Homo sapiens: one gene and its partners. The protein of the gene in region 1 interacts with the protein of each later gene in a biochemical or structural test. Each region holds a gene or a part of one and is shown on either strand. Other genes may lie near its edges.

Region 1 (8,084 bases):
ACAGTCCCAGGGACCTGACGGGGACACTCAGAGACTCTGTCTCTGCCTCCTGTGCGGGGTCATGCTCTGCCTGGAAAGCGCCTCCTTCCTTCCTGGCCCATTGGGAAATCGCAGTGTCCTCTGGCCGGTCCCAGCACCCCCGGGTGGGACCCCAGCGACCCTGCACCCCCCCACTGCAGCCGTCTCCCTCCTCCTGGCAGGGCAGCTGCCAAGCCTTGCCCAGTCCAGGTCTCCCCAGGCAGGATCCCTTGGGGGAAACCTGAGGAGGCAGCTGTTCCCCCACTCCCAGAGTGTCCTCAGAGAACCCCTTCCAGACCCCAAGCTCCAGAGCTCGGCCTCAGGTTCCCTTGCTCGGGTCTGGGAACTGGAAGTCGGTCCCGCTCCCCTCCCTGGCCTCTGCCCCATTTTTCTGTCCGCTTCCACGTAGAGCAGACCAGAATATGCCACCCCAAAATATGCCTCTTTGGCATAAGCATTATTTTGAGCTGCTTATTTTGAGAAACTGCAACCACAGGAGAAATTCTGAAAACAAGAGTGGAAGCTGCTGTTCTATGAGAGAAAGTCACATCCGTACAGGCATCTGCGCTCACCAGGGTGCCCCCTCTCTGGGCCAGAAGGCCGCCTGTAAGTCACCGGAGACGCTCATCCATGGAGAAGGCCTGACCCCAGTTTGGGGTAATTTCTTGGGCCCCTCCCCACACACTCTTTCTCTTTGTTTCCGTCGAACATGGTCTTTAAGGCTGAGCTCCAAGCCACGCCTTTGCGACATAGCCTGTCCCGAGTCCGTCCCTTGCAGACCAAGGTATACATGCTATTAAGCTTCTGTTTTTCTCTTGTTATCTGTCTTTTCCACCTTGCAGCACGAAGCTTCCCCCAGGAATCCTCCACGCCCTCACCTGCACCAAGACTTTCAATTAAGAGCAGCAGTGCCCTCCTGGTGTCTGGTGGTGCCAGGGGGCAGGCCTGGTCCTCAGGCCTGGGGTCTTCTGTCCCCCCTTATCCTGGGGAGCCCATCTGTCCCCCTCATTCCTGGGAAGCCCGTCTGCCCCCCTCATTCCTGGGGAGCCCGTCTGCCCCCCTCATTCCTGGGGAGCCTGTCTGCCCCCCCCATTCCTGGGGGACCCATCTGTCCCCCCTCATTCCTGGGGATCCCATCTGTCCCCCTCATTCCTGGGGAGCCCGTCTGCCCCCCTCATTCCTGGGGAGCCCGTCTGCCCCCCTCATTCCTGGGGGGCCCGTCTGTCCCAGGGCTTTGCATACTGAGGCCTCGCAATCCACAAGCTTTCCTAATTCCCAGCTCATCCACATGACAACAGCCCTTCCCCGGGGGCTCTGGCCGACCTCCCTTCGTCCTCACCACACAGCTGCTCTCCCTGCCCCGCCCTTAGCCCTCCTTAGACCCATCCACCCGGCCCCTAGGTGAGCCTCTCCCGACCCAAGACCCAGCGTCGTCCCTCTGTCCCCAGCCTTCCCACGGCCCCCTCACTCAGGACGCAGCCCACAGCCTGGCCCCACCTGCAGACCTTACAGAGGCCACTTGGCCCCTCACACAATGCCCACCTCACAGGCCTTCTCTCCCCGCAGAGGGTCAGACATGCCCCTGCCCCAGCCTTGGCATTTCCACCCCGCAGGCCTCCACGGGGCTGAGCCCTCAGGTACCAGCTTCTGTGCAAAGCCATGCCTGGAGGCCTTCCTGGGCCACGTGGTCTAAGACAGCAATCCCCTCACACCCAGAGCAGGCAGCCCTCCCTGCCCGGGCCGTCTTATTTTCCTATGTCATTCCTGTCACCACCTGGCGCTCACCTTGGCTAACTGGAGCTCCAGCCCCTTTGGACGAAAAGAGCTCCCAGAGCCACTCCCTGGTCTCTGATGGGGCTGTGTGTCCTCTCCAGGTGCCCTCCCCGACAGCCAGCCCCTCCGCCTCTGCACAAGGGAGGGCCCAGGGAGGCTCAGGGCCTGTGTGGCTGTGTGTGTGTCTCTATGTGTCTGTGTGTCTGTGTGTTTCTGTGTATCTATGTGTGTATGTGAATGTGTATCTGTCCATGTATCTGTGTATATCTGTGTCTGTGTGTGTGTGTATGTCTGTGTCTGTGTGTATATCTGCGTCTGTATGTATATATGCGTGTCTGTGTGTATACGTGTCTGTGTACCTGTGTCTTCGTATGTCTATGTGTGTATTGGTGTGTGTCTGTGTGTGTCCATGTGTGATGACATGTGTATCTGTGTCTATGTGTGCATCTATGTATATCTGTGTGTATGTCTTTGTGTATCTATAGATCTGTGTCTATGTGTATATTATCTCTGTGTTCATCTGAGTATTGTATGTCCATGTGTGTCTACATGTGCCTGTGTCTGTATCTGTGTCTGTCTATGTGTCTATGTGTGTATCTGTGTGTCCGTGTGTGTGTGTCCATATATCTGTCTATGCATGTATCATCTGTGTGTCTGTGTATTGTGTATCCATGCATATATCCGTAACTATGGGTATGTCTGTGTGTGTTTGTGTCCACGTGTGTGTATCTGTGTGTGTCTATATATCTGTGTCTATGTGTGTGTCTGTGTCCACGTGTGTGTATCTGTGTGTGTCTATATATCCGTGTCTGTGTGTATCTGTGTGTATCTATGTGTGCATCTGTGTGTGTCTGTTTTCTCTTTGTTTTTATGGTGTCCACGGATGGGCCGACTGAACCACCAAATTCCTCCTCAGAGCCCAGTAAAGGCACCAGGCGGAAGGGTCTGGCGGAGGGTTGGCCGCTGTCTCCTCACTCCTCAGCGGGGTCCTGTCTTCCGACTTTTGTCTCGCGCCGCCGCAGCCTGTGGACTCCTGGGCCCTCCTCTGAGAGCCTGCGCTGTGCCTGGCCCCGGGCGGAACTTTGAACGAGGCTCCTGTCTTAACTCGACTGCTTGTGCTTGGGGGAGATAAACAATAAACAGGAGCAGAAGAAAGTGTCCTCAGACCACGGCGGGTGCTGTTGGGAAAACAGTGGCGGGGCAGGGAGGGGGGCGCTTCTGAAGGACCTGGCGAGGTAGAGGCCACTGTTCTAAGAGGCAACAGACGAGATGAACCAGGACCCTCTGCGAGGGAGGGAGGCGTCCAGGGGTGCACACGGGTCCAGATAGCTGCCGGGCTCCCAAAAACCACTCTGGGGGTGAGGATGGGAGGGGAGAGGAGTTGGGGGCAGGAGGCAAGTGAAAGTAAGTGCCCAGGGAACCTCCATGAGGCCCCCCACACCGGATAATAGTGTTCCATGGGGTCTGCTCAGCCCCATGTCTGCCCCAAGACACTAGCCACAGCTCTGCGTCGAGGTCCTGTAGACCACGGGAGAGATGGGGGGGCCAGGAGCCTATAGAACTCCAAGTCCAAGGGGACCCTTGCTGGGAGAACACAGGCCAAGACCTTCCTTCCTGCCACAGGCTTCTGTCCCTGCTGTCTGCTCCCCCAGGACTCCCCCCACACCCGGGATCTTCCTCCTCACCCTCCTTGGCCTCTCTCAGTGACCCTGTCTACACACAGATGTGCTGTCCATGTGAGTGGAAGGAAGGAAGGATGAGGTCCACTCACAGGGGTGAAGCTGTCTCCTGAGGGGGCAGCCCACCTCCAGGTCACACCGCCCCACCCAACACAGCCTCCAGTCCAGCTCCAGGTGGGCCGCACCCAGCCCTTCACTCACTTCAAATGGCCCAAGACGCATGGATTCCACTGGCCAGCCGGACTGGAACAACTTCTCCCCTTATAAGTATCTAGTGGGTGCCCACGGAATGCCAGGCAATGGGCCAGGCTCAGAGATGAGTGATTCCTCAGGAACAATGGGCTCAACGCCCTTAATTCACATCAGAGGAAACTGAGGCTCAGAGAGGGCGGAGAGGGCCCTGGTAACACAGCCAGCCGGTGAAAGTAAGAGGGGGGGCCCAGGCCCTGCTCCCGGCCCACCCGCCTGGGCTTGCTGGCGAGGCTGCTGGCCCAGGCAGTCTGGGCACTGTGGAAGCAGCCGGCTTGAGGCACAGGGGATGTGGCCTCCTCCCACACACTTACCTCCCTGACTACATCTTAGGCTGACATCCAGATTAACTCATATTCCCTACAGGGAGCTGCACGGCCAGAAGCTGCTGGTTGCAGAAGCCACCAGCTGGTTGTACAAGCACCGCTCCCCTGGTTGTGGGTGACAGATGAGATGCACTCACGTGAACACACATGCATGTGCACACACACATGCACACAGACGCACACACAAACACACACAGGCATACACACGCACACGCACATCCACACACACACATGCGCACACACACGCACACGCCTGCACTCACACACCCCCGTCGGCCCCAAGCAGGAAGGCGCCCCCGGCACACCAGCCCCTCTCAGCGCCCCCAGCGGGCCCGGCGCCTGGAGGGTTAAGGCGGGCGCGTCCCGCGGGTGGGCGGGGGGGGGGGGACGGGACCGGTGCCGGGAGCTCCGCTGCCCTGGCGTCCCCTGGGTCCAGGCCCAGTCGCTCCTTGGGCCTCTCTCGCGGGGCCGCCTCCGCCTCCTCCTTGCCGAGACGGGCGTGGGGCACGGGGTCGCCGCCCGGCGGGGAGCTCATCCGGCGGCGCAGACGCCCCGCGGCTCCGGGGAGGGACTTGGCCTGGGCCCCGGCCCCGCGCTCCTCTGGGGAGGAGCCGAGAGGCTGCAGCTGGCGGCGGCGGCCCCGGGCGGGAGGGGGTCCCAGGAAGCGGCCAGGCCGGAGCCCCCCACTCGGCCGCAGCTGCTGGCCTGGCCAGAACCGAGCGCGCCCTCCCGGTCTCCGCCGCTTCCCTCTGCAAACCGCGGGCAGGAGGAGCCCTCTCCTTAGCGGGCCCGGAGCTCAGAGGCGTCGCGGGGCGCGGCCGAGGGGAGGAGGAAGGAGAGCGGGAGCGCAGCCGGCCCGGGCCCAGCCGTGACTCGTGGGGCGGCGGCTCCGCCAATCTGTGGGCGCTGACGCGGGGGGCGGCTCCGCGGCGCTCGATATCTGCCCGCCCGGGACGCGGGGCGCCGAGAGGCTCGGCCAGGCGGGAGCTGCGCTCGGGGCGGCCGCTGCACCTGCCCGGGACCCCGCCGGCCGCTCCCCGCGCCCACCCCTTCCGCCCTTCGCCCCCCCCTTCCCCCCAGCCCCGGTCTCCCGGGCGCGGCGTGAGAGCAGAGCCCGGCCCGGAGGAGCCGCCCCTTCCCCGCCCGCCCGCCCGGCGCCTGGAGAGGAGCGCGCTGAGGATCGGGACGCCTGCGGCCGCCGCCACCGCCCAGGCCCGTCGCGCCCCGGCCGGGATGGACCCACACGCCCGATGAGCCCCGCGCCGGCGGCTGCGAGCGCCGAGCCTCCCCCTGCTGCGGCCCCAGCCGCCCCCCGCGCGCCCGGCTCCGCGGACCAGGACCCCTGGGCTCCCCGGCTGAGGGCGCGGCCGCTCCGGAGAGGCCGAGCGGGGACGGGCCCGAGATGGCGCGGGGACCCAGCGCTCCGGCGGCGGGCGCCCTGCACGCGGCCCGGGCCCGGGGACAGCCCCGGAGCTGGTAGCCGCCCGGCACCGATGGACCTTGACCCGCGAGGCGGCGCCGCGCTCGTGCCCAGCTGCAGCTAGAGGGGCGCGCGGGCAGAACGCGCTCCAGGCCCGGGCCGGCCCGCGCGGCCATGAAGATGATGCTGGTGCGCCGGTTCCGCGTGCTCATCCTGATGGTGTTCCTGGTGGCCTGCGCGCTGCACATCGCCCTGGACCTGCTGCCCAGGCTGGAGCGACGCGGCGCGCGGCCCTCGGGGGAGCCCGGCTGTTCGTGCGCGCAGCCCGCCGCCGAGGTGGCCGCGCCCGGCTGGGCCCAGGTTCGGGGCCGCCCCGGGGAGCCCCCGGCCGCCTCCTCCGCCGCCGGCGACGCGGGCTGGCCCAACAAGCACACGCTCCGCATCCTGCAGGACTTCAGCTCCGACCCCTCCTCCAACCTCTCGTCCCACTCGCTGGAGAAACTGCCGCCCGCGGCCGAGCCGGCCGAGCGCGCCTTGCGGGGGCGGGATCCCGGCGCCCTAAGACCCCACGACCCCGCGCACCGGCCGCTGCTGCGAGACCCCGGCCCGCGTCGGTCCGAGTCGCCCCCCGGCCCCGGCGGAGACGCCTCCCTCCTGGCCAGGCTGTTCGAGCACCCGCTTTACCGGGTGGCGGTTCCGCCGCTCACGGAGGAGGACGTCCTGTTCAATGTGAACAGCGACACCAGGCTCAGCCCCAAAGCGGCGGAGAACCCGGACTGGTGAGTGGGGGCTGGCAGGTGCCCACCCCCAAGGGAGCCGTGAGCCCAAGGCATGGTGTAGAGAGGTTCAGGGGCCCCAGAGGGCCGCCCCCCATGGAAGAGGCCGGGCAGGGAGTGTGGTGCGGGAGGAGGCAGCCGCCTACCTCAGGGCGCTGCCTTTGTCTCCAGAATAACCTCCTCCTTGGGAGGGGCTGCCGGCTGGTCCGGGAGCTGTGCCCTGTGGCTGCTGGTGAGGAAGCCAGACCCCGCGCCCTTTAGAAGCGAGTCCTGACCAGCCGTGGTCACCAGCTTGGGAAATGGGGTCAGGCAATGAATGAATGAGTTGGTGAGGGAAGGAGCCAGGCTGCCGCTGGGCTTTCAGACACTTGGCGAGGGTGCTCTGGGTGGGCACCTTGGAGAAGGTCTGGATGTGCCTATTGAGTCTTTTAAACCCAGTGGCTGGAGCAGAATTATCAGAGGGGCTTGCTGGCAGCCGTGAGGTGCAACAAGGCGGCCCAGCCAGCAAGGGCGGTGGGTGTGCTGGCTGCAAAGAGATGATGGCTCGATAAAGGGCGAGAAGCCACGGCAGGAACCTCTCTTTAAACTGTCCTGGCTAAGCCCTTTCCCCACCCCCCGGCCCCTCCCTCCGCCACACAGATCAAAACAAGCAGATGCTACACCGAAGCAGTGGAACATTAACCACGACAAGGCCAGAATAAGTAACTACCTGCCGAAGGTTACCCCAGCAGCAGAGGGGGAGACCAGCCTTCCAAAAGATCTGGTTGAAAGTCCCTTCTTCCCTGAAATGTCCAGGCCCAGTGTCTTCTGTCTAAACACACTGGCTGTTTGGAAGCCTCTGAGCCTTGCCTGCTGGTCAGGTTCAAGGAAATGCTTGGAAATTTGAGAACCAGAGCATTGGCCTGGGCTGTGGCTCTCGGCAGGGAGAGACGGCCGCCCAGAGCAGCGAGTGGCCAGGAAGTGTATCCTAGCCCCCCACCCCGCCCCCGTGTCCACCGCAGGACAGAGCTTCGGCAGAAAGCACCTCAGCTTTAGGTGAATTCGAGCTAGGACAAGTTCCGCGTTTCCCTCCAGCCCAGCAGGCAGACGGAGGGTCTGTCCCTCCTCCAGAACGGTCCCTTGACCCCAGAGATGTGAGGACAGGCTGCGTGGGCGGCGGGTCCTCCATGGGAGCCTGGGCTGGAGAGAGTGCTGCCTCCTTCCTCTCTCCCCACCCAAGGCTGCTCTCATTAAAATCAAATTTAGCCTCTTGCATCATTGTGCCCCTGGTTGTTGGAACAAAAGCAGAGAGCTGGGGAAGGTTCCTGACAGACTGGGCGTGTCTGTGAGTTTCATGCAGCCTGTGGTCAATGGTAGGTTCTCCCCTCTACTCCAGGGGAGGGCCACAGCCCCTCGCACCCTCAGCTGAGGTCATGGTTGGGCCATTTCGGTGACCCTGGGACAGACGTGGCGGGGATGGCAGGGCAGCGCTGACGTCCTGGAATTAGTTTTGCTGTAGTTAGAGCTGTCTGTGGTGTCTCCAGAGGGTGAGTAAGAATTACAGGCCTTTCACCGTGTTATTAGTTGGCAGCCGAGCGGCCACAGAAGAAAGCGCAGACGTTGCAGGGCCCTCTTTAAGCAGAGGCGCCTTCAACACATCTGCACTTGCTTGAACCCAAAGTTAAAAACACTGGCGTCGGTGCCCTCTCCCCGTCATCCGACTCACGGGCCTGTTCTTTCCATGCTGATGTTCGTCCTCGCTGCTCCCTGCAGGCCGCATGCGGGTGCTGAAGGTGCAGAATTCCTCTCCCCCGGGGAGGCGGCCGTGGACTCCTATCCCAACTGGCTCAAGTTCCACATTGGT
Region 2 (7,685 bases), on another chromosome or scaffold:
GGCCAACATGGCGAAACCGCGTCTCTACAAAAATACAAAAATTAGCTGGGCGTGGTGACACGTGCCTGTAATCCCAGCTACTTGGGAGGCTGAGGCAGGAGAATCGCTTGAACCCAGAAGGAGGAGGTGGCAGTGAGCTGAGATCTCAGCATTGCACTCCAGCCCGGGCAACAGAGCCAGACTGTAAAAAAAAAAAAAAAAAAAAGAATAGAGGGAAAGGCATTACAAATGTGTAGCAAATACTCTGGGTAGGAAAGAGGTTAGCTGTGTAGACAGGAAGAGTGATTGTGCATGTATGTGTGTATGTGGTGGTTAGCTTGTTGAGAATTTGGGGGAATCGTGAGAGCAGGACCTTCTTCCCCACTATTTGCCAGTGCATAAATAACACATCCTGGATTGAGCCACAGAACAAAGTGTACTTTGCTTTCCATCTGCTCTAAGTCATGACTTAAAGAATATTTACACGAATGTATACAGATAGGGGATACATTTCCCATGCAGAATTAATAGGAGAAGAACATCTGATTTGACAGGCAATGAGTTGGCAATAATAAGCAATTGTTCTGTTCCTCAGAGTGGACCCAATTGATTCAGGTGTGGATCATTATAGGTTCAAAGAATGCCAATGTGTTAGACTGATAGTGAATGACTGAGGCTCATCCCAACGTCAGTATCATATAAAGGTAAGCTAGGGTGGCACCCTCAATTTTTCTTTCATTTAAAATTCATCTTGCGTGATGGAACAGAGACTATTTTTATTTGTGGAATTAAGGTTTTCATCATTATAATCAGTTTTCAACCTCTTTCTCCATTTCCATTCTCTTTCTCTAAAACACTTTAAGAAGACCAAGTAGCTAACCTTTTCTTTCAAGGAATTAAAATACTCTAAAGTTCATTTGAGGCCAACTGTGAGCTACTGGAGACAAGAGATCATGTCTTATTTACTTTCATTTTTCCATGTCTTATTTACTGGATGCATGGCAGCTGCTCAACATATTTGCTAAATGCATATAGCAGCCAAATAAAGTTTTTGTGATAACAGAATTGCATGCTGTTGGCTGGAGTAGTTCAGTGTTCAAAAGATTGTGTTTGTATGAGATCATTTCAATATATACTAGAATGGATCAGGTGTGGGACTGTAATACACAATTAGCCCCATCACTATGATATGTTTTGATTTATGAAACTTCAGCTCTCAGTCACACAATTTCATGTTTACAAGGTAAATTTGCTAGTTAATTACTAGCTTTAAATGGAATTATCTAGCTGAGTTTTGTAACCATAGAAATTTAGAGATAGTTCTTTTTGAAATGAAGAAAATGTATTTTTTTCAAAGAAATTTCCTCTTTCCATTTCAACTTTATAATGATAGCAATAAGTTGATAATAAAATTTCGCCATGCATTGTGGAGACTATCTAAGCTTTTAACTTTGAATGAGTGGAATAAGATCTAGAAATTGTCTTGGGACTATTTTAAATAACTTTTTAGTAGAAATATCATACTTCACTTACTGCTTTTTTTTTTTTTTTTTAAATGGAGTCTCACTCCGTCACCCAGGCTGGAGTGTAGTGGCACAATCTTGGCTTACTGCAACCTCCGCCTCCCAGGTTCAAGCAATTCTCCTGCCTCAGCCTCCCAAGTAGCTGGGATTACAGGTGCCCACCACCACGCCTGGCTAATTTTTGTATTTTTAGTAGAGACAGGGTTTAGCCATGTTGGCTAGGCTGGTCTCAAGCTCCTCACCTCAGGTCATCCTCCTGCCTCAACCTCCCAAAGTGCTGGGATTACAGGCGTGAGCCACCGCACCCGGCTATCACTTACCGCTTTTGGATTGCAAGACTGACATCTGAGCAACTATGGCTTTTGACTCAATAGGACTAAACCACTGGATTAAATCAAGTGAGTCTATGCGTGGACTCTCAGTCCATATCCCTTCAGTGTTGTTTGGAGTTCGACAATCAATAACCTTTTCTGGGACACACTCTAAAGACTGACTTACCGGCACTGCAAAACTCATTTCCAGGAGGCATAGGATCAGTATCAGGTCCTTCATTTTGAAAAGTGGAATCTAAAACATAATTAAGTTGGAGAATTAAATCAGATGAATTTTTATTCAGAATGGTTAAAAGACAATTTTTGAAAATGAGCCTGAGTCTCTGCTCTTACAAAAACCACCGGGATAAAGGTTAGAAGAACAAAAACAAAAACTAAATGTTACTAAACAACCGATTTGTATGTAGTAGTTTCTGAAATAAATTAACAAGCAATTAAAAAATATCTAAGCACGTTTTAAATGGATCTACAGCCTAAATAAGTATGTAGGAACAACCTCCATCGATATTCTTTGTGATATATTTCATTTCATAAAGTGAATTATGAGTTTAAAAATCCTTCCCACTAAGTAAAATATTGGTCTATAAGGTATTATTCACAGAAGTTTATACTTTGCTTACCCTTTGGGACACATTTTGAAATGCATGTGAAATGTAATGCAACTAAGTCATTTTATAACAAACCTTTATTTGCAGGAATAGAGGGTACATCATTGCATGTTTAGGTAATCTACGTAACCATGACAAAATTTTTCTTTTCAAATGAGAGTAAATTGGCTATCTTAATTTTCTTTGATGTTAGTGGAAAATATGTCTCAAATTTAGCTTTCCTCTTCCTAAAATGAATTATCTTTTAAAATTTATTCTATAAATTCAAAAAGCTCTTTATTCTTACATGAATAGAGATCTGAATAGCCTAGAAATTTACTCATCTTCTAATATTAAAAAGAATTAGGCACTATAATCAAAAACATTAAAAAAAACACAATCTATAAATAAAAGTCTTTTTTTTTTTCTTAGTTGAATGGGTGTTAGGCATGTCATCTCTGGGACATGCTAATGGATTACAACAAGCAATAATTCAGCTACTGGTGACAAATGAAGATAAATCCTCTTTATAAAAGCTGTCAGGAGATAGGAAAAAAAGAATTTACAGGAAACACATGGAAATCATAAAATCCCATTTTACCTTAGATGCTGACATGCACTGTGCTCTCAGGGCCTGATGATGCCAACCAAGATAGTTCTAAGAAAAGAAGATTAAAATTTTTTTCAGGACTGTGCGTGGGACTTGCTCTGTACTTCTCATTCAGGGAAGATTAGAAACCTTTATTTAAAGTGCCAATCCACCAATCAAAGTGAAGCAAAATGGCGAGGGGTGGCGGGGGGGAGTTGGGGCGGGAATCTCTGCTCCTGCAATTAGTCCACACCCTTTTATTGCGTGCAGGGACATTGGCCCAGTAGGGTCTCATTATTTTTAATTGTACTGCAGCCCCTGTACTTATTCAGAGAACTTGATAGCAGGGAAGGCAGTAAAGGAATAATGGACATAGGCTCTGAAGACAATTATTTTGGTGAGCTGGGGAAAATATATGTAAAATAGGTGCAAAACAAAACCTGTTTTGTGCAGGTTTTATCTGCAGATAAAGCTAGTGACCCAATGCTAGCATTCTTCAGGTTTTCACCCTCCTGTTTGTTGTAGTAAAAGAGACTACTGTCCTTCCCCCCAGCACACACAGAGTTTAAAAGAAAACACTAAAATGTTAGATGGAAAATTAATGTGTGTGATTTCTTCCTTGAATTTCCTAGATATTTTCATATCTGGAGATAATTGATTAGAGATAGCCAAGCTTTTGTAAGAAACTACAGTTGGACCCTTTGCAAGAATCAGGTTTACTTCAGGTAAACGTTTGGTGCATTTTAAAAAAAATCTGTGGGGACGGGGACGTAAATCAGAACATTCTCTATGAACCAAATCAATGGGCACAAGTGTCAGTTCACTCTTCAGATAGACACATTCCCAGGCATTAGTATCAAGCCAGGTTAATAAGACATATTTCGATCACTTAAAAGGTTAACGTCAACACAGATTGGTTTTTCTCCGTGAACAGATAATATCTTGGATGTGGATTGAATATTAGCTGCTTTTGTTACTTCTCTGCCCATCCTTGTCTTTCCAAAGTTGTGATTTCAGATATGGTAGGGATAAGCATTTAAGATTAGTTCTGAAGAAGGGATGAGTCAGTACACTCTTTAGGGAAGTAGGGATCTTGTCAATTACAGGGAACATTGAGGAAGCTGGTATTTTGAGAGAAAGCTGTATCCATACCCAAATGTAGGCCTAACAGCTTCAAATAATGTTATCTTAGAAGCTGCTCCTGAAAACCTCTGTGTTCCACTGATACCAGAATTATCTTTAGGATGCAAAGAAATGAAGAATGTGAATGTGTTTTGCAAACAGCAAAATGTTATTGAAATGAAAAGTATTATTTTTCATGCTGTCTCTGGTGCTTGATGCAGTCCCTTAATCTCTTTTGAGCCCCAGTTCCTTCTTCTGTTATGTAAGGATAATAATTAATGACCACAAGCTAGTCTTTTTTTTTTTTGAGACGGAGTCTCGCTGTGTTGCCCAGGCTGGAGTGCAGTGGTGTGATCTCAGCTCACTACAACCTCCGCCTCCTGGGTTCAGGCGACTCTACTGCCTCAGCCTCCTGAGCAGCTACGATTACAGGCCTGCGCCACCATGCCCGGCTAACTTTTTTTGTATTTTTAGTAGAGACAGGGTTTCCCCATGTTGGCCAGGTTGGTCTGAAACTACCGACCTCAGGTGATCCTCCTGTGTTGGCATCCCAAAGTGCTGGGATTACAGGCGTGAGCCACCACGCCCAGCCTGAGCTTGTCTTAAAGATTGGTGAGATGGTGAAGATGCAGCAGCTGCCATTTATTGGGTGCTGAATGAATGAGTTGATTGTCCTTTTGGTAGGAGAAACTACATGAAATATGAGACCACAAGAACTGTGTGTGTGTGTGTGTGTGTGTGTGTGTGTGTGTGTGTGCTGGAGGAGGAGGAGTGCTGGCAGCTAGGTTCATAAGCTCCAAGGAGGTAGAGGAGGGACCTGATGGAGGACATTTTCTCTGTGGAAGTTGATGCTGAATCCATAGGAACGAGCTTCCTAGTTGGCTAAAAAACTGGCAAATAGTGTGTATGTGTGTGTCTTGTAAAGTTTATAAGCGTGATCATGACACACTAATAATGATGTTTTGGTAGGATTCTTATGTTCTGCTTTGCTTTTGAGCCAAATATCCAATATATCATACACACTGTTGCTTCTTCCTTTTTTAAATGTCACACTCCATTCTGGCTTACTGACTTCCAGATGTTTATCTGGTAGTTTATTTCTCCTCCAATATCCTGCACACCAACACTAGACTTATCTTCCTAAAATACTGGTTTTGGCATTTCACTGCCCCACTCAAAAACTATGTAAGGATCTCTAAGGCTGTCATAAAGTTCACCCTCTGTAACTAGACAGTCAATTGAACATTTCAGTTCCTCTTTCCAATCTTGTTTCCCACTTTGCATGAGACAGTGTGTATTCATATTGTAATAATGATTGTAATCAATTGGAGTTGGTTTCATTTTTTCAGCTAATAAACAGTTTTTTGTCAGATTTTATGGGATGTATGTTACTGGGAAAGTTGGTAAATGTAATACTAATATATCCTACAAAAAATTTTCTATTACAATGAAATCTGGAAATTAGTATGAATGTATGAATGAGTTTCTGACAGTGATTATAGATATAAGGAAATTACCATAGCTGATGGAAACCATGTTATGTTGGCCAAGACCATACCTGTATGAAGAAGAATCAGAGAGTCAGTTATAAGAAAATACTTGTGTCTGGAGTACAGCAAAATAAAAAAAAATCTCAAAGTGACAAAAGATGTGAGACACATGAAGAGACATAGGCCATAGAAAAAGTTACAATGAAAAATTTAGAGCAACAAGATCTGGCAGAATATGTTAGTAAAGTGGTTGAGAGCACAGCTGTTTAAATCCCCTCTGTAATACTCACTGGTCATATGACATTGAATGAGCCACTATATAATCTTCATGTAGTTTTTTTTTTTAAAGTTTTTTGAGACGGAGTCTCACTCTGTCATCCAGGCTGGAATGCAGTGGCACGATCTTGGCTCACTGCAACCTCCGCTTCCCAGGTTCCTGCAATTCTCATGCCTCAGCCTCCTGAGTAGCTGGGACTAAGGGCACGCGCCGCCATACCCAGATAATTTTTGTATTTTTAGTAGAGACAGGGTTTCACCATGTTGGGCAGGCTGGTCTGTAACTCCTAGCCTCAAGCGATCTGCCCACCTTGGCCTCCCAAAGTGTTGGGATTACAGGCATGAGCCACTGCACCTGGCCTCCATGTTTTCACTTTATATAAATACATATATTTTATATATATATACACATACACATATATTTTATATATATGTATATATGTATGTATATATGCATATATATGTATATATACATTTTATATATGTATATATGTTATATATGTATATATGTATAAATGTATATATATTTTATATATACATGTATATATAGTATATTTTATATATTATATATACACATATTTTATATATGTGTATATATACATACATATATAACATATATACATATATAACATATACATACATACATAACATATATACATATATGTTATATATGTATATATGTATGTGTATATATTTTATATATGTGTATATATAGTATGTTTTCTATATGTATATATGTGTGTATATATACATATGTTTTATATATATACACATTATATATATATATATAGAGAGAGAGAGAGAGAGAGAGAGAGAGAGAGACAGAGTCTTGGCTCACTGCAACCTTCACCTCCTGGGTTCAAGTGAGTCTTCTGTCTCAGGCTGTCGAGTAGCTGAGATTACAGGCATCCACCACCATGCCCAGCTAATTTTTTGTATTTTTAGTAGAGACGAGGTTTCACCATGTTGGCCTGGCTGGTCACGAACTGCTGACCTCAGGTGATCCACCCACCTCGGCCTCCCAATGTGCTGGGATTACAGGCATGAGCCACTGTGCCCAAGCTCATATAACATTTTTATCTGTGAAATGTGGTCTACCGTAGGTCAGCATTAATTTAATTTAAATACGAAATATAAGGTGCTTAGCACACTAGCTGGTAGCCAAGAAATGTTCAGTGATCATGAGTTATTATCATTCTTGTGGAAATGAAATATGAAGGCTAAAAATCTGCTTCATATTAAAATACTTTCTCAGCTTTATTGAGGTATAATTGATATACAATAATTGCACATATTTAATGTATACATCTTGATGAGTTTAGACATACGCATATACCCTTGATATCAGCATTACAACTAAGGTAATAAACATATGCATTACCTCCAAAAATTTCCTTGTGTTCTTTTGTATGTGTGCTTTTTTATTAAGTAGTAAGAACATTGAACAAGAAATCTGTCCTCTTAACAGATTTTTAAGTGCACAATATAGTATTGTTAACTATGGGCATATTGTACAGCAGATCTCTAGAACTTATTCATCTTGCATAACAGAAATTTTATACTCATTGAAGAACAATTCTCCATTTCTCCCTCCCCCCAGCCTCTGGCAACCACTATTCTTTGCTTCTGTGAGTCTGGCTATTTTAGATACCTCATGTAAGTGGAATCATGCAGTGTCTGTCCTTTTGTGACTGGCTTATTTCACCTGGCATAATGTCTTCTGGGTTCATCCACGTTGTCACAAATGGCAGGACTTTCTTCTTTCTAAGGCTGAATAATATTCCATT
Region 3 (8,165 bases), on another chromosome or scaffold:
GCGTTCCCCTTGGGACCCTGGGATAACCGAAGTGGGTCAGGCCCTGACTATATTTATCATATAGAGCAAAAGGAAAGTGTGGAACTGAAGGACTCAATCAGGGTTTCGACCGGTCAGCTTGGGAGAGAAAGATCTGCTACTCAGGAGGAATAGAAGTCTGCTCTTTTGGAGGTCCTGAGTTATTCGGGTTGGCTGCCCACACACCACATGACGGATTTCTACATACTTTGTGTCTCATTTTCCTAGTAGGTGAAATGACTTCTGAAATGTATAATTGGGGGTTCCTGCCCCTGCCTCTCATGCAGTGGGCTTTGGAGACTGAGTTCTGGGTGGCCAGACACAGCGTGTCCCCTTACAAGGTGTTTATCGTTTATTATGACATTGGTCTCCAGTCCACCCTGCCTGTGTAGACACAGCTTATGAGTGCAGAAGGGAGACACTGGCATAATGTTTTATACCTAGACTGTCGCTTGCAAGCACTAAAACACACCACAAGGAACAGCAAAGGAAGTTGGTTAACAAGGCTTTCCAATGAACGTTTCAATCATGTATGCTCACCCCAAACATTCTTCATGCTCTGGATGGATTTTTACCTGGGCATCAAATTTTCCAGCGTTGTGCAGAAAAGTCATGCAAATCCCATGTAAGCCCCGAATCTCACAAGAGTTGTTCTCGAAACATTCAAACACGCCACACCCCACATCGCCAGCGTTGACCAAACAGTGCTGGATCTCCGCTAAAAGGAAAATCACATACAAATATATACAAAACTCTAACCCATGCTGGGCAATGCAGAGAGGTCATTTGAAATAAAAGTTAACAACTAAAGGAAAATTTAAGGAGGAAAAAAGACTTAGTAATGACTATTTCAGGACCTAAAAAGCCTGGGAAACAAAATTTCGTCCTTTAATCTACTCATGAAAAATATCTCTATTTGTAAATATTTGTAGAAAAGAGCCGAAAAATTACAAAAATTACAACCAGAAGGCTGGTCTGAGCATTCCTCCTTTTCATCCTTTCCATTTTATTAAAGTATTTGTGGGAATACTTAGTTTGAGAGCAAAATATATTTCCGCTTTTTAAACCCACAGACAAAAATAAAATTTTGAGTCGAAGACTGTACTTCATCAATGAAGTACCCTTCTCTACTTGATCTGTAGAAGTTGCTGCTATTAAATCACAGCCATTTGCTTCCTGACCCCCAAATGACAGCATCTAAAAAGCAGTTTCAATTCAGCTTTATGATTCAACACCTAAAAATCAAAACAAAATTCCTATTAAGGCAGTGCCTCCCAACCCTTCGCATTAAAATACCAGCTAGGGAAGCTGCGGTTGGCGAGCAGGCTTAGGAGTGGAGTCAGCTGGGGGCGAGCCTTCAGAAACGCCACTATCAGAGGTTGCAGGCTCCTTTTAATTAGGGATCCGGGTGAGGTATCACCCAATCCCCTAGAATTCCCGCAGCCCGGGAGGAAGCTTGCAGCCCTTCACCGAATGTGGCCCCCAGTCCTCTCTCGGAAGGGGCAGACGGAGGGAGTTAACTGTCAGGCTGCAGCGTGCAAAGCCTCTTCCCTCCCTTTCCACTACCCAAGTCTCTGATTTAAATCAACCACAAAATTACATCAGAAAAGTATATTTTGGAAGAAGGGCGGGGTCGGAGCAGATAACCCGCATCAGATTAAATCTAGCCAGAGAATGAGGGGCGTGTATTGTTGAGGGTCACCGACCACCGAGAATCAGGTTCAGTTCTCAGAGGAAGCGCCAGAGGAGGGGGAGGGTGGGCGAGGGTCTCGGGGTGGTGGGGGTGCCGGCCCCAGCATGTGGAGGCGACAGGATCCGTAAGACCCCACGCGCCGCCGGGGCAGGACCGCACAGGGCCGCCATTCACTCACTTGGGGCGTCCCTAATGGGCACTCGTGCATTCCAGCTCGTGCGGTGAGCGCACGCACGCCGCCGCTGCCGCGTTCACACGGCCCCCCAAAGTCGGGGGAGGGGTCGTGGAGCGAAGGAGCTGTAGGCAGATTTTCTTTCTCTTTCCGAGCTGGGAAAAGGGCCAGCCCCGTGCCCTGCACGCCTGGCTCTGCTTTGCAGCTTGCCGGTGAGCCAAGAGCCGGTAGAGCAGAGGAGGCGCACGGTTCGGGTCGTGTCACCATTTCTTGGCTTGCTGACCTGGCCAGGAGCTGGGGATGGCGGCAGCACCGCGGAGGTACGCTTTGCGCTGCCCTCACGCTCCCTTCCGAAAGCAGTGCCCCCAGGGGGAAAGTTCGCAATGCCATTTGTCTCGCCGGCAAAGTTCTGGGATGTCGGGCATCTTTTGAGGAGGGGGAAGACGCGGCACCCTTACTGAGGCCGGCAGGCCAGGAAGAGAAGTTCTCCGGGCGCAGGGCGCAGCCCAGCTCCGGGGACCCTCTGGGCCTCCCGCGTGCCGGCCGGGATGAAGCGCGCTTTGCACCGGACCCGGGATTCGGGGGCGGGGGCTGGCGCTGGCAGCGTCAGACGCTGCTTCATTTCCCCTCGACCCTGGGGAGGACAGCAACAAGTCCTGCCCCAGCCATTTCATCACCCTGCTAGCACGTGCAGATTCCGGGCCCTCGGAGCCCGGCGCGGACCTCGCCTTGCCTCGCGCTTCCCTTTGCACGTCCCGTGCCATCCCAAGAGTTTGCGTGGCCCTGGGTGGGCGCCTGGCTCCCGGCGAAACGCCTGGGGCGCGCCGCGTGGGTGCACGGTGTCCTCTCCCAGTAGCTCCCGGCTGCGGGGGCACATGCACTTACCTGTATTCTGCAGGGACAGGCGGCCTTTCTGCTGGGAGCTCCTGTCTTGGGGACCCTCGGGTGGGTTGGTGGCGTCGGTCCCCCGCGCCGGGTCAAAGGTGGCCAACACCAAAGCCAGGGTCATGAACTGGCCCAGCCGCTCGGCACACATGGTTCTTGGTATTAACCTCCCGTCGGGAGACCTGGATCCTTTGTGCTCCCCTCTTCCTCCTCCTCCTCTTCCTCCTTCGCCGCTTCCCCTCCTCCTCCCACTCTTCCTTTTTGCTCGCCTTTTCCCTCCTCCTCGCGGCCGCGGCTCGGATAGAGGTTACCCAGCGCCCTCCCGTAGCTCTCCGGAGAGCATGTGACCAGGCCGTTAGCAGCGCCGCGAGTGCCCGGCAATGGCAGGGATGGTGCCTCAAATATCCCTGGAAGCTCTGGTGTCACTTGAATGAAGGAGTCGAGCAGGTGTTGTCCCGGCGGCTGGACCAATCCGAGACCCCGGCCCTTTTGACAACACGGCCGGGAGGCGGGGCCTGCGCTCAACTACTACAGGAGGAAGCCGAGCGCCGCTGGGAGCGCCGGACAAAGTTGCCGACCTGGCGGCGGCCACGCGTTTGCGTGCGTGTGTATGAGTGTGTGTGAGCGCGGCCGGAGATGCGTGCGCGTGTGCGGGTGCTCCAGGGCAATGGTCGAAAGGACTGTACAATATAAGAGCGAATCCAAGCTCCAGTTGCTGTTAAAGGGGGACGGTGTGCTCTGGGACAGTGTCCCTGGGGCCCCTGGCTCGCGTCACACCCACATCGGGTTGGGAAAGTTTCCTCTTTCCGCCGTTTGGAATTCAGTGAGATTCCCAGCCCAGAGGACTTGATAAATTGAAGCAGTTTCCTAGGCACAATGATGCTGTGGGCCAACTGAGCACACATGGGAATTCCTGGCCTTGTGACACTTTGCATTAAAAAGAACCCCACGATTGAAGATAGGAGCAGAAGCACTAGATACAGTATTTGGTCTGAGCAACTGCCCTATCTTCCCGCTTTGGTGGGCCGTGCAACACCTGGAGTGTCGTTTCTCGTCTTTCCCCTAATCCAGACGCATTCCAGGCTGGGCTGCAGGGATCCAGGTGACAGTCAGGACTTGCATCATTTCCAGGAGGGTGGCAGGGAGGCCCAAGGCAGCCCTGAGTCAGCCCGCCGCGGAGCATCGCGTGCCCGGAGGCCAGAGCTTGAAAGGCAACTTTACGCGTCTCCAAACACACTCCTGCATTTTCTCAAAGCGCTGCTCGCCACCCCGCTCCGGGTTCCCTTTTACTCTCCAGTCATCCGATGGAAGTGGTGAGAACAAAAACAAAGACAAAAAAGCTAAATCCGGGGAAGTTATCTCCATCTCCTCCCTTTTCTTGTTCGGCCCCCTCCCCAAGAACCGCCGGGTCGGGATAGCCCCCGGCTACTTTCTCACCCGGCCCGTGGAGGGAAGGAGAAAGTTGGGCGCCGCTTGGAGCGCCTCTTCCCCTGCTGTGTGTGTACGTGTGCACGCTCACGTCTCCCCCGCGCCGGGGCCGGGGACAGGAACTGCTCTCGGTCCCGTCACCCCACGGCGCAGCTCGGGGGGCTCGCAGGGCTGGGGGAGGGCGGGGACACGAGCGCCGCGCCCAAGCGCCCCAGGGCACGCACCCGGCGTTGGCGCGCACTCGCCCCTCCCCCCGTCCCCACCCTCCTCCTGGAGAACAGGTGAGCCCCGGTACCAGCTCTCGATCCCCCACCCCCGCCCCGCGCCCCGCCCGCGCCCTCTGCGGTAATGCGCCTGGGAAGTTTCATCACCCACTGCCCAGGCGACGCGGCCCTGGGTCTCCGCGGCGGGGCGCACTGCCCGCCTGGTTGGGGCCGCCATGTGACACGGCTGGGGGAGGGGGCGAGGAGACACGCGGGCAGGTCATCTTTTGGCCGGCGCTTGACTTCCAAAGCTTTCCTTTCCCGTGTCCCGGCTGCACGCGGGAGTGGGGAAGGCGGAGGCGGGGGGCCAGGATGGCCACGGCTGGCCGCAGCTATCCGGCGTGTCGAGCTCTCCTGAGTCGGAAGGAAGGAGAGGAGGGGGTGGGGAGGGCGTCTTCAGAGTGGGCTTCCCCTGCGCTGGAGCGCCAGGGAGCATCCATAAATTGTCACTTTGAAGGTCCGAACCTGCGGCGGTAGGGACCATGCCCACTATTCTAATAGCAATTACTCCGCGCAGCCTTGGATCTTTTGTGCAAGGACGTGCGGGTACAAATACATTAAAACGGCCAGTTCACATTGCCCACCCTGCTTGTGTTTGCATAGTTAACTTAGCTTCCTAGTTTATGGAAAACTACCTCCTGTAGATCCTTAAAAACAAAGCAAACAAACGACACAGCGGCATTCTGGCCTCTCCTAACTAACTCTTTAAGGCTCTGAATTTCCTGAGAACAAGTAGCCATTTGGTCCCACTCCTGCTTATGGGTACAGCTGGGTAGACTTTCTTTCTATGTGGCCTCTTTTGTAGGAGAGAACATGAGCAATATTGACATTAAGAAGGCATCTGGTCACCTGTTTTTTTTTGAGAAGCAGAAATAGGAGAGAGCTCCATGGGGCAGGAGCAAGCCCTCTTTTGCCAGATGCAGACACTTAGTGTGCTGGGCAGAGGCCTCCCAGGATACCTGGAGCGATGGCCAGGGGGATGGAGCTCTCCCTGCTCCTGCTTTGCCCAGCCTTTGGCTAGGCCTACCTTTTGCTACCATGGGGCCCCTGGGGCTGCCCTCAGAGGACCTACATAGTTTCAAAGTTCGTCCTGAGGCTGTTTGCTCCTGCCTTCCAAGGGACATTCCTGGTTTTCACCTGAGCCAACTGCCCCTTTAGAACCAAAAGAACACATAGTAGCTAGAATTGGAGGTGGCGTAAGCACAGGCACTAGTTCTTAAGGGTTTATCTCTGGGCCACTTAGCCAAGTCCAAAGCATCCAGATAAGAATGCCCATCTGAGTCCGACCCGCCAAGGCTGTGAAAATTCCCTTGCAGAATCACTAGGCAGTTTGCTGAAATGGCCAGTCTAGGCCGCAGGGGTAGAAGTGGGATGGGGGCTCAGACTGGTGACTTTGTTGTGATTGACTCCCCCTCTCTCTGGCTGATTCCTTTAGCTTTATAACTGAGGCCAAGTTTGGCAGACTGTGGCTGATGAGGGTGGGGCAGGGGACAGTAATAATAATCATTATTACTATTATATAGCTAACATGACACCGCACCACACACCACACTCATGCCTTTGGTGTCCCTCCAGACCTAGGGCCCTCCCTAGATGGGAACTGAGGCCTGGGAGGTCTCCTGGATGGACCAGCTGCTGTCCTGAGGTTCAGCAGCACCTGTCTGGATGGGCCCTCCTCCTCAATTTAACGCATACACAGCCAGGAAGAGGCAGACATGACCTACCTTGTGTCATCCAGGGCCTTCTGTGGTTGACGCCTGGAGCCCATGTTTTCCTGTCTAAATCCACTTTGCTAGTTACATGCGGTCAACACTGAGTGGCAGGTTTTGGGGGAGGGGATATTTGGGTTAGACCATGAAGGATGGGGGAGGATAGTGACAAGTAGAGGCAAGGAAAAAAGTGGGCATGGGAGGTGGGAGGACCAGCAGGGCTAAATGCATGGAGAGGATCCGGTGGGATTTGTATCAGGAATAGGGGTTGCCCAGTTAGGTGTGAAAGTGGGACATCAAACTGGGGAAGTCGGCCAGGGCATGTTGTGAAGGCTGGGCTCCTTGTGACAAATCTGTGCTCCTCACGGAAGATCTGACGGTATTTAAGGATGAGACTGTAGGGCGCTTTAGACTAGGTTCTCTTTAGGAATTAGGAAATGCTCAGGGGCCCAGAGCTGCCATTGTGGAGAAAGAGCAGAGGAGTGGGAAGGAATTAGTTGGAATCTTCACGTGCGTCTCGATGCCCAGCAAGACAGACGTGTTCTTGCTCGAGTGTGAGCCGAAGGGGCTTTAGCGGATGGGCATAGTTCGTGGGTGCTGAGTCAGTGATGTGCAAGTTGACACGTGCTGCCTGGTCCAGGCTTTCTGAGTTCCGGAACCTGAGTGGAGAACATGGCTTACACGTGGGGAGCTCCACCCACTGCACGCCCCGCCCCCTTGGGGCCGACTGTCTGGGCTGATGGCACCACCTTATGGTCAGAGAGGGAACTGTCTGGCTACACAGTCCTCACGACTCTGCCTGCCTGGAAAGTTCTGATATTGGGTCTCCAGCCTTCTCCCCAGTTTCCTTTCCTTTTCTTAGCAAATCAATTAATGCAGATTTAGCCAATCTCCTCGCAATAACATGCCTTAATCCCCCCATCAAAGAGATCTCTTTCACACTTATTTTCCCTCTTGCTCCCCTATCCGTTGCTGTTTTCCTTTGTGAGTCTCAAATTTACCCTAATCCTGGCTCCTGTGCATCATACCTGTATGAAGGAAAATGAAAAAAGGTATCAAGGTGAAACCGGACAGAAAAAAATAACAAACTGCTGCTATCAGGCCTCCCAAATTATCTTGCAAGCAGAGGTCTCTCCCTAAAAAGCCTCCATCTCCCAGCACTTTGGGAGGCTGAGGTAGGTAGATCGCTTGAGCCCGGGAATTCGAGACCAACCTGGGCAACATGGCAAGACCCCGTCTCTACAGAAAATACAAACATTAGCCAGACGTGGTGGTATGTGCTTGTAATCGCAGCTACTCGGGAGACTGAGGTTCTGGGAGAATGGCTTGAGTCCAGGAGGTTGAGGCTGCAGTGAGCTATGATTGCACCACTGTACTCCAGCCTGGGTGACAGAGCAAGACCCTGTCTCAAAAAAAAAAAAGCCTCTATCTTTGCTCTTATCTTTTTTTCATTAAACTGGTTATTTCATTAAATATAATTCAGGATAAAGGAGATTATATCTTCAATATTTGGGTTTGTTTATTCTTAATACTATAACCAAATTATATTCTACTAATTTATACCATAAAAGTGCAGTGCCCAACAACACAATGAGTTAAGAAGGATTTTGTGGTGCTGGCCTGTAAACCTATCATGTATAATATTGTTTCTTGGAAGAAAATATATTCTGAGTTCCCCAAACAACCAACTTTGGAAGTGTGGGAACACAACGCTTTTGTGAATTGGGCATTTCCTCTCTGTCACAGATCAATAGTCAAACCATTCATGGATTGACTGGAAATACAAAAGAAAAAAAAGCATTAAAAAAACCCCCAAGAGAGTAGGAACACAATAAACCCATTTACTGGAAGGAATATAAAGTAGTAAACACTGGGCATCTGACTGTAGTCTGAGTTTTGTTAACGCCTTTCTCTGAAGCCTGAATGGTATTCCAGAAGGCCTCTCTGTTTTACATGGGTCATAATTTTTTCTTCCTTGTTGTATCTTGAGACAAACT

Evidence for each region. The genes of interacting proteins can lie anywhere in the genome.
Region 2: of the proteins of FAM20C (region 1) and AMBN, one has a biochemical effect on the other in vitro, tested with the Homo sapiens proteins (one study listed by IntAct).
Region 3: of the proteins of FAM20C (region 1) and STC2, one has a biochemical effect on the other in vitro, tested with the Homo sapiens proteins (one study listed by IntAct).

Annotation. Positions count from the first base shown.
Region 1 is NC_000007.14:187,561-195,644, forward strand, and holds the start of FAM20C (extracellular serine/threonine protein kinase FAM20C precursor), read left to right. Parts: upstream 1-5,010; 5' UTR 5,011-5,639; coding exon 5,640-6,244; intron 6,245-7,993; coding exon 7,994-8,084. UniProt on the Homo sapiens protein: Golgi serine/threonine protein kinase that phosphorylates secretory pathway proteins within Ser-x-Glu/pSer motifs and plays a key role in biomineralization of bones and teeth.
Region 2 is NC_000004.12:70,587,711-70,595,395, reverse strand, and holds the start of AMBN (ameloblastin precursor), read right to left. Parts: upstream 3,141-7,685; 5' UTR 3,038-3,140; coding exon 3,023-3,037; intron 2,070-3,022; coding exon 2,001-2,069; intron 1-2,000. UniProt on the Homo sapiens protein: Involved in the mineralization and structural organization of enamel.
Region 3 is NC_000005.10:173,325,275-173,333,439, forward strand, and holds the start of STC2 (stanniocalcin-2 precursor), read right to left. Parts: upstream 3,141-8,165; 5' UTR 2,920-3,140; coding exon 2,769-2,919; intron 737-2,768; coding exon 594-736; intron 1-593. UniProt on the Homo sapiens protein: Has an anti-hypocalcemic action on calcium and phosphate homeostasis.